Homo sapiens: one gene and its partner. The protein of the gene in region 2 interacts with the protein of the main gene of each other region in a pairwise test. Each region holds a gene or a part of one and is shown on either strand. Other genes may lie near its edges.

Region 1 (3,419 bases), on a different chromosome or scaffold from region 2:
CAACACGCCCAACTAATTTTTGTACTTTCAGTAGAGAAGGGATTTCACTATGTTGCCCACACTGGTCTCGAATTCCTGGCCTCAAGTGTTCCACCCACTCAGCCTCCCAAAGTGCTGGGATTGCAAATGTGAGCCACCACGCTCGGCCAGAAACTGTATCCATTAAGAGCCTATACTGCATTATGTACCAGGCCCTGTGGTGAGTATATTACATGGGTTATGTCTCTTAACATTTAAAGAATGTAATGCATTATCTCTATTCACAGAGAAAGAAAACTGAGGCCTGAGGAGGTTAAAAAACTTGCCCCATGCCACGCAACAAATACCTAGGGGAGTCGTGATTCCAATGCAGGGAACATGAATCAAGAGCCCAGGCTCTTAAACATGCTCTCCTGCATTTGAAGAGAGATGGCCCTTGATGTGAACTGACAGGTAAAGACACACACACACACACACACACACGCACAATGAGATCACTAACAAATCAGAAGATTTCAATATTAGGGAAGTGGCTGTTTATTAATACATGAAAACAATATTATATGAGATCATCACAGTTAGTGTCCCCTTCGAATGAAGACACTGCTCATCTAAAAATAACTGCATTGGGGCCTGGCATAACATATTTTAATGAATGTGATTGTCTGTCATTTCCTAGAAGAGCTGAATGTCCACTCTGAATGCCACATGAGACAAACTGGCAGGGAAGTGTTCATTTTTCCAGTGACTGGCTGGCTACAGTGCATTTTAAATGACTAATGAAGACATTCATAGTATGACAAATATCACAAGGAGACATTAGCAGCAAGAGGAGGCACAGCACAAGGGGCGGGGGCAGGTGGAGATGACACAGGTTGGGCGATAGCAAGTGGTGTGGCAGGAGACTCGGCCACAGACTGGACGCACGCAGCAGCAGGGGCGGCAGCAGCTGGATTCACAGCAAGAGGGGTGGCAGCAGCTGGAGATGCAGCAGCTGGGACGGCAGCAAGTGGGCTGGCAGCACACAGACTGGCAGCACTGGGGTCTGCAGCAGCTGGACACACAGCAGCTGGGGCAGCAGCAGGTGGTCCTGCAGCAGGTGGTCCTGCAGCAGGTGGTCTGGCAGCAGCAGGGGCGGCAGCAGCTGGATTCACAGCAATAGGGGCGGCAGCAGCTGGAGATGCAGCAGCTAGGGTGGCAGCAGGTGGGCTGGTAGCACACAGACTGGCAGCACTGGGGCTTGCAGCAGCTGGGGCGGCAGCAGGTGGTCCTGCAGCAGGTGGTCTGGCAGCAGCTGGGGCGGCAGCAGTTCTCCAGGCCACAGCTCTGCTCAGAGCTGACAGAGCCACAACAGGAGCTGACCATGGTGTCAGAGGGTGGAGGTTCTGGGTGGATTTCTAGAAGAATGAGGTTCTCAAGTTTGGAAGTGTCCTTGGGCCACAGCCTCTTATATACTGCCCAGCTGTCTTGTTGGTACTACATTTTCCTTGTTTTTGTTTACTTAATAACTAAGTGATTATCAGATTACACAATAATGTTTGCCCATTTAATGGTTTAAACTTGTTGAAAACAAAATTTTCTTGTCCGGATGTAATAAGATCTATCATGTCTGCCTTCTCTCATGATTCACACCTCGGTAGCATCTTCTAGACCACGTTCTCTTCCTCTTCCTCCACAGAGGGCTGTTCATGTGATTCCCTGCATTTGGAATTGCATTTCTTACTCTCGCTTCAGGTACCCTCTACCAAAATGGGATTTGGTCAGTCACACTTCCAGTTATGCATTCCCTCTAGTGACCAATAGCGAGGAAAACCCATCTGCTCAGTGTGGCATTCCTAGTCTGTGGGTCATTATTAAGCAATAAGCAAAGGGATAGCAATACCTGCATGTGGCCTTGGTGACCTCTACACTATTGAAATGGGTTTCCCTGAATGTTTCAAATTTTGGGTCATATTCCATATCCTTAAATTTTTATACTTGGTGTTACTAATGGGTCAGTTTCTTAAATTGATACTTTGCTCTCCTATATTTTGTGTCATGTCTCTCCAGTTAATCTATTAGATTCCGGAAGACATAGTCCCATTTTTATTCCATAACTCATTGTTTTTTTTAAATGCCTCTAACTGTCTGTTAACATAATGCAGGTGTGTGTTTTCACTTTTTAAAAAAGAAATTTGAGATAATTGTAGATTTACATACAGCTGTAACAAACAGTCCCAGGAGAGGCTGTCTGTACTTCACCCAGGCTCCCTAACACTGTGTAACACCTGTATAATACTTTTAAGAATCTATCTACCCCCACTACTGTGTCTTGCATGATGTGCTTAATATAGAAAGAACTCAAGCTCAGTGAAATTAAAAACAATTAGTTATTTTTCAGATTGACGTATAATATTGTATTTACCACATACAACATAATATTTTGAAGTATATATACATTGTGGAAGGATTAAATCTAGCTAATAAATGCATTACCTCTCATACCTATCATTTTTTTGTGGTGAGAACGCTTAATATCCATTCTTAGAATTTTTCAAGAATACAGTATGTACAATATATCATCATTAACTATAGTCACTATGCTATACAGTAGACCTCTTGAACTGATTCTTCCTGTCTAGCTACAATTATATGTCTTTTGACCAGTATCTCCTCAAGCCCCTGACTCCCTAGCCACCCCTAGCCTCTGATTATCTTCATTCTCTGCTCTACTTCTATGATATCAACTTTTTTGAGTGCGATCATGTGAGTGAGATCATGTGCTATCTGTCTTTCTATGACTGATTTACTTCACTTAGCATAATTTCCTTGAGATGTATCCATGTTGTCACAAATGACAGAACTTCCGTCTTTTTACGGCCAAATAGTATTGCACTGAGTATATACTGCATTTTCTTTATCCCCTTACTCATTGGTGGACACTTGCACTGTGTGCATATCTTGGCAATTGTGAATAGTGCTGCAATAAATCTGGACATGCAGTTATTTCTTCAACATACTAAGTTCATTTCCTGTAGATATATAAGGTACCCAGAAGTGGATTGCTGGATAATACGGTAATTCCAGTTTTAATTTTTTGAGGAACCCTTATATTGTTTTCCATAATGGCTGAACTAATTTATATTCCCACCAACAGTGTACGAGGGAGTTTTTTTCACATCCTTGCCAATACTTGTCATCTTTTGTCTTTTTGATGATAACCATTCTAACAGGAATAAGGTGATATCTCAATGTGGTTTCGATTTGTATTTCCCTAATGATTAGTAATGTTGAGTACTTTTTCACAAACCTGTTAGCCATTTGTATGTCTTCTTTTGAGAAATGTCTAGTCAGGTCTTTTGCCCATTTTTAATCAGGTTTTTGTTTTCTTGCTTGTGAGCTGTTTGAGCTCCTTTTGTATTTTGGATGTTAACCCCTTATGAGATATATACTTTATAAAT
Region 2 (3,600 bases):
TGAGCCACCTCGCCTGGTGTTTCCAGTGTGCTGCCTTCTAACCTCACAGTTTCTCTTTGGTCTTCTGACTTTCTCCTCCTCTCCCTCTGTCTCCGCCTCCTTTTTGTTCTATCCCTAGGTCTCTGCTCTATTTTTCTAGGCCTGCTTTTCTCCCTCCGGGCATTTTGTTGTAATGAGTCTGTGCCTCTGCTGTGTCTCTGCATCTGTCAGCCTCTGTTTCCGTATTTATATCTGTCTCTATCTCTGTCTTTGTGTTTCTCTCTCTCCTTCCCTGTCTTCTCTGCCTCTTCCTTCTGGCTTCTCCCCTGTAGGTTAGATGACAGAAGCCAAGATCCTCCCCAAAGCTAGGATGGCACCCCAGGGTCCCCCATGAGTCCTGGGAGGCCTCTTTCTCAAGGCTCCCAAGGCTCCTCAGAGGAGAGGCTTGGGGAATGCCGTGGTGGAGGCTCCACCTGGCCTCAGCCTCCTCCCCAGCAGTGTGTGTCGGGTGCGGGGAGGCACACAGCAGCCCCATGACCTTCTATCTCTCTCCAGGTTTCCGACTGGTGGATGAGGCTGCCTGGAGCGTGAGTTTCCTCTTCTGGGAGAGTCTGATAGGAGATGTTGAGGGGGGACAGAGGGTGGAGGAACAGATGCCAACTCTCAGCTTCATCCTCCAGTGGAGAGAGAGGAAGGCAGAGAAGTGAGTCTGGCCAACCCAGCTCCTAGAGATGGCAGCCCCACCTGCAGTGGGGAACATGGTGGGTGGGCCTTCGGAGGCCTCAAGAGTGGGAGAGGCCACACAGCAGGGAGGAGACACAGGAGATAGGAGGGCTGCGCCCACACCCTGGCTTATGACTGGCTCACAAGCACACACAACAGGCCCTATACCATGAGCTGGTTTTGAGTGGGGTTCAGAGATGAGCTCCCCCGTCTCCAACCGTCCCCCTAGCACAAGGCCAGCTTAGGCCAGGGTTGAGAGCTGACACCCGGCCCAATCCTGCCCGAGCTGAGCCCTGGCTGAGCCTGGGAACCTCAGGCCAGCACAAGCTGTTCCTGTCCCCGGGGACTAGGGTCACAGCCCAGCCCCAGGAGAGGCCACTCATAACAGGCCAGAACAGGGGAGTGGAGAGCAGCTACTGGAGGCTGGAGACGGGGGTGGGGGTGAAGGGTTGCCTTGCTGGGGCCTGGGCTCCTGGACCCCCCACACACCCACCTGGCCCTTAGCACAACTTCAGATCATCAGCCTGCCAAGTTTTCTGAGGATCCAGTTGCCCGGGACCTCAAGCTGAACCCCCAGTCCTCATAACTGGCAAAGATGTGAGAGCCAGGGACCTGCAAACCTGGGTCCTTCCCCTACATCCTCCCTCAAACATTCCTGCCGCTGGACAGAGAGATGACACTGATAATCTGTTTATCTAGCGTCATTCAAAGCAGGAGACACGTTTTTGCTCACTTAAGCCTCACAACCCATGAGGTAGGCCCTATATTATTCTCCTTTAGAAATGAGAAACTGAGGCACAGAGGTCAGGCCTCTTGACCAAGACCCCACAGACAGTAAGCTGCAGAGTGGAGGGTGGCACTTAGGCAGTCTTGGCTCCAGTGTCGATGCTCTTGTGGCTACACTTCCCTTGCAAGCCAAGGACAGCACCCAGTCTTCTCTTCCCAGCCCTGGGAGGGGGCAGTGAGCCAGGCTGCCCCTGACTCACAAAGTCCGGGGACCAGGGGCTTAGGGAACAACCTCGCTAGCATTTCATCTCATTTACATGTTCATTACGGAAGGGAACCCCCAACCCATCCTCTCTGGCCCCCTCCACTGTCCCCTTCCCCTCCTTCACGTCTCTCTCCATCAGTCCCTCTTTTCTACACTCCTGGGTCTGGGGCCTCAGACTCCAGTCGAGGAGGGGGACCTCAGGGACCGCAAGCCCTTTCCCCGGGGCAGGGTGGTCTCCGGGGCCGCACCACCGGGCCTCCCCTGCCAGGGGGCGCGCAGTCACTCACCTGCCTTGGGGCCCCGTCTCCCCTGCGGCCTGGGGTAGGAACCGCCGGGGTCTGCGAGGAGGAGGACTGGACAGCCGAGGACGGGGCGAGGGTCCCCACTTCGAGCCCCAGCCTGACTGCGGGAGCGGCGGGGAGGCGGGACGCTGCTGATCGCAGGGCCGGGAGGGGCGCCGAGGGGCGGGGGGCAGGAAGGGGGTGGGAACTCGGGCCCTCGCCAAGGCAGGAAGTTTTGACAAGGAAACAGGAGCCGGGGGAGGGGAGATCCAGGCGCCCGGGAGGGAAAACTGTATTCTGGGTGGGATCACAGAGGCCGACTCTGCGCGGCCTGGGCCAGGAGCAGAGGGGGATAAGAAGGGGATGAGGAGGGGAGGTCAGCGCAGGGGCCCAGGGCCCCAGTCCCTCCCTAGCTTCCCCTCGTTGTGCGGCCTGGGTTACTTACCCTCTCGTGCCTCAGCTTTCCTATCTGCAAAGTGGGGTTGTGGGAAGGAATCAATGAGATCGCCTACGTCGGGCACTGTCCAGTGCTGCCCAGCAACCGTGATCTTATTAAGACCCCTCCCGGGCACCGCATCCCACTAGTCTCGGAGAGGCTGACAGGGCGAGGCCCCCCTCTCCTCCTGCCGCCCCTAATCGCACTGCGGAAGGCCGGGCGCGGTGGCTCATGCCTATAATCCCAGCACTTTGGAAGGCCGAGGCCGGCCGATCGTGGAGCCCAGAGTTTGGAGACCAGCCTGGCCAACATGGCGAAATCCTGTCTCTACTAAAAATACAAAAATTAGGGCCGGGCGCCGTGGCTCAGGCCTGTAATCCCAGCACTTTGGGAGGCCAAGGAGGGCGGATCATTTGAGGTCAGGAGTTAGAGACCAGCCTGGCCAACACGGTGAAACTCCGTCTCTACGAAGAGTACAAAAAAAATTGCCGGGCGTGGTGGTGGGCGCCTGTAATCCCAGCTACTGGGGGAGGCTGAGGCAGGAGAATCGCTTGAACCCAGGAGACGAAGGTGGCAGTGAGCCGAGATCGTGCCACTGCACTCCAGCTTGGGCGACAGAGCACAGCTCCGTCAAAAAAAAAAAAAAAAAAAAAACGCGCCAGGTGTAGTGGCGCGCACCTGTGGTCTCGGTTTACTGGGGAGGCTGAAGAGGAAGGATCGCTTGAGCCTAGGAGGTCGAGACTGCAGTGAGCCAAGATCCTGCCACTCCACTCCAGCCTGGGCGACAGAGCGAGACCCTATCTTAAAAAAAAGAAAGAAAAAAAAAAGAAAAGAAAAAAGTCACACCGCGGGAGGGTGTGACCCTGGGAAGCATTCTCCGCCTCTGCCCGCCCCGCCTCCGGCCCACACCCACCAGCGCGTAAGCAACTCCTGAGCCCACCGAGTCCGGTGCGAGCGCCACCTCGCGGCTAGCATCCGCTTCCCAGAGCCCCACAGCCGGGGGACCAGACCTGGGAGCCCTTCCCCGCCTGATAGCAATGAACATTAGCTTTCCCCGCCTGATAGCAATGAACATTAGCTTTCGCCGTGGTCAGCCCTTCAGGCGTATTGCCTCATTGAATCCTTCACTCGAGATTGGTTTCATCATTATGTCCTTTTACATATGGCGAAACCGACGTCCTGAGCGGCTT

Evidence for each region.
Region 1: the proteins of PEAR1 (region 2) and KRTAP4-5 interact in binary tests that used the Homo sapiens proteins (3 or more experiments, as listed by UniProt).

The regions. Positions count from the first base shown.
Region 1 is NC_000017.11:41,148,424-41,151,842, forward strand, and holds KRTAP4-5 (keratin-associated protein 4-5), read right to left. Parts: upstream 1,403-3,419; 5' UTR 1,345-1,402; coding exon 799-1,344; 3' UTR 501-798; downstream 1-500. UniProt on the Homo sapiens protein: In the hair cortex, hair keratin intermediate filaments are embedded in an interfilamentous matrix, consisting of hair keratin-associated proteins (KRTAP), which are essential for the formation of a rigid and resistant hair shaft through their extensive disulfide bond cross-linking with abundant cysteine residues of hair keratins.
Region 2 is NC_000001.11:156,892,218-156,895,817, reverse strand, and holds the start of PEAR1 (platelet endothelial aggregation receptor 1 isoform 1 precursor), read right to left. Parts: upstream 2,101-3,600; 5' UTR 1,981-2,100; intron 1-1,980.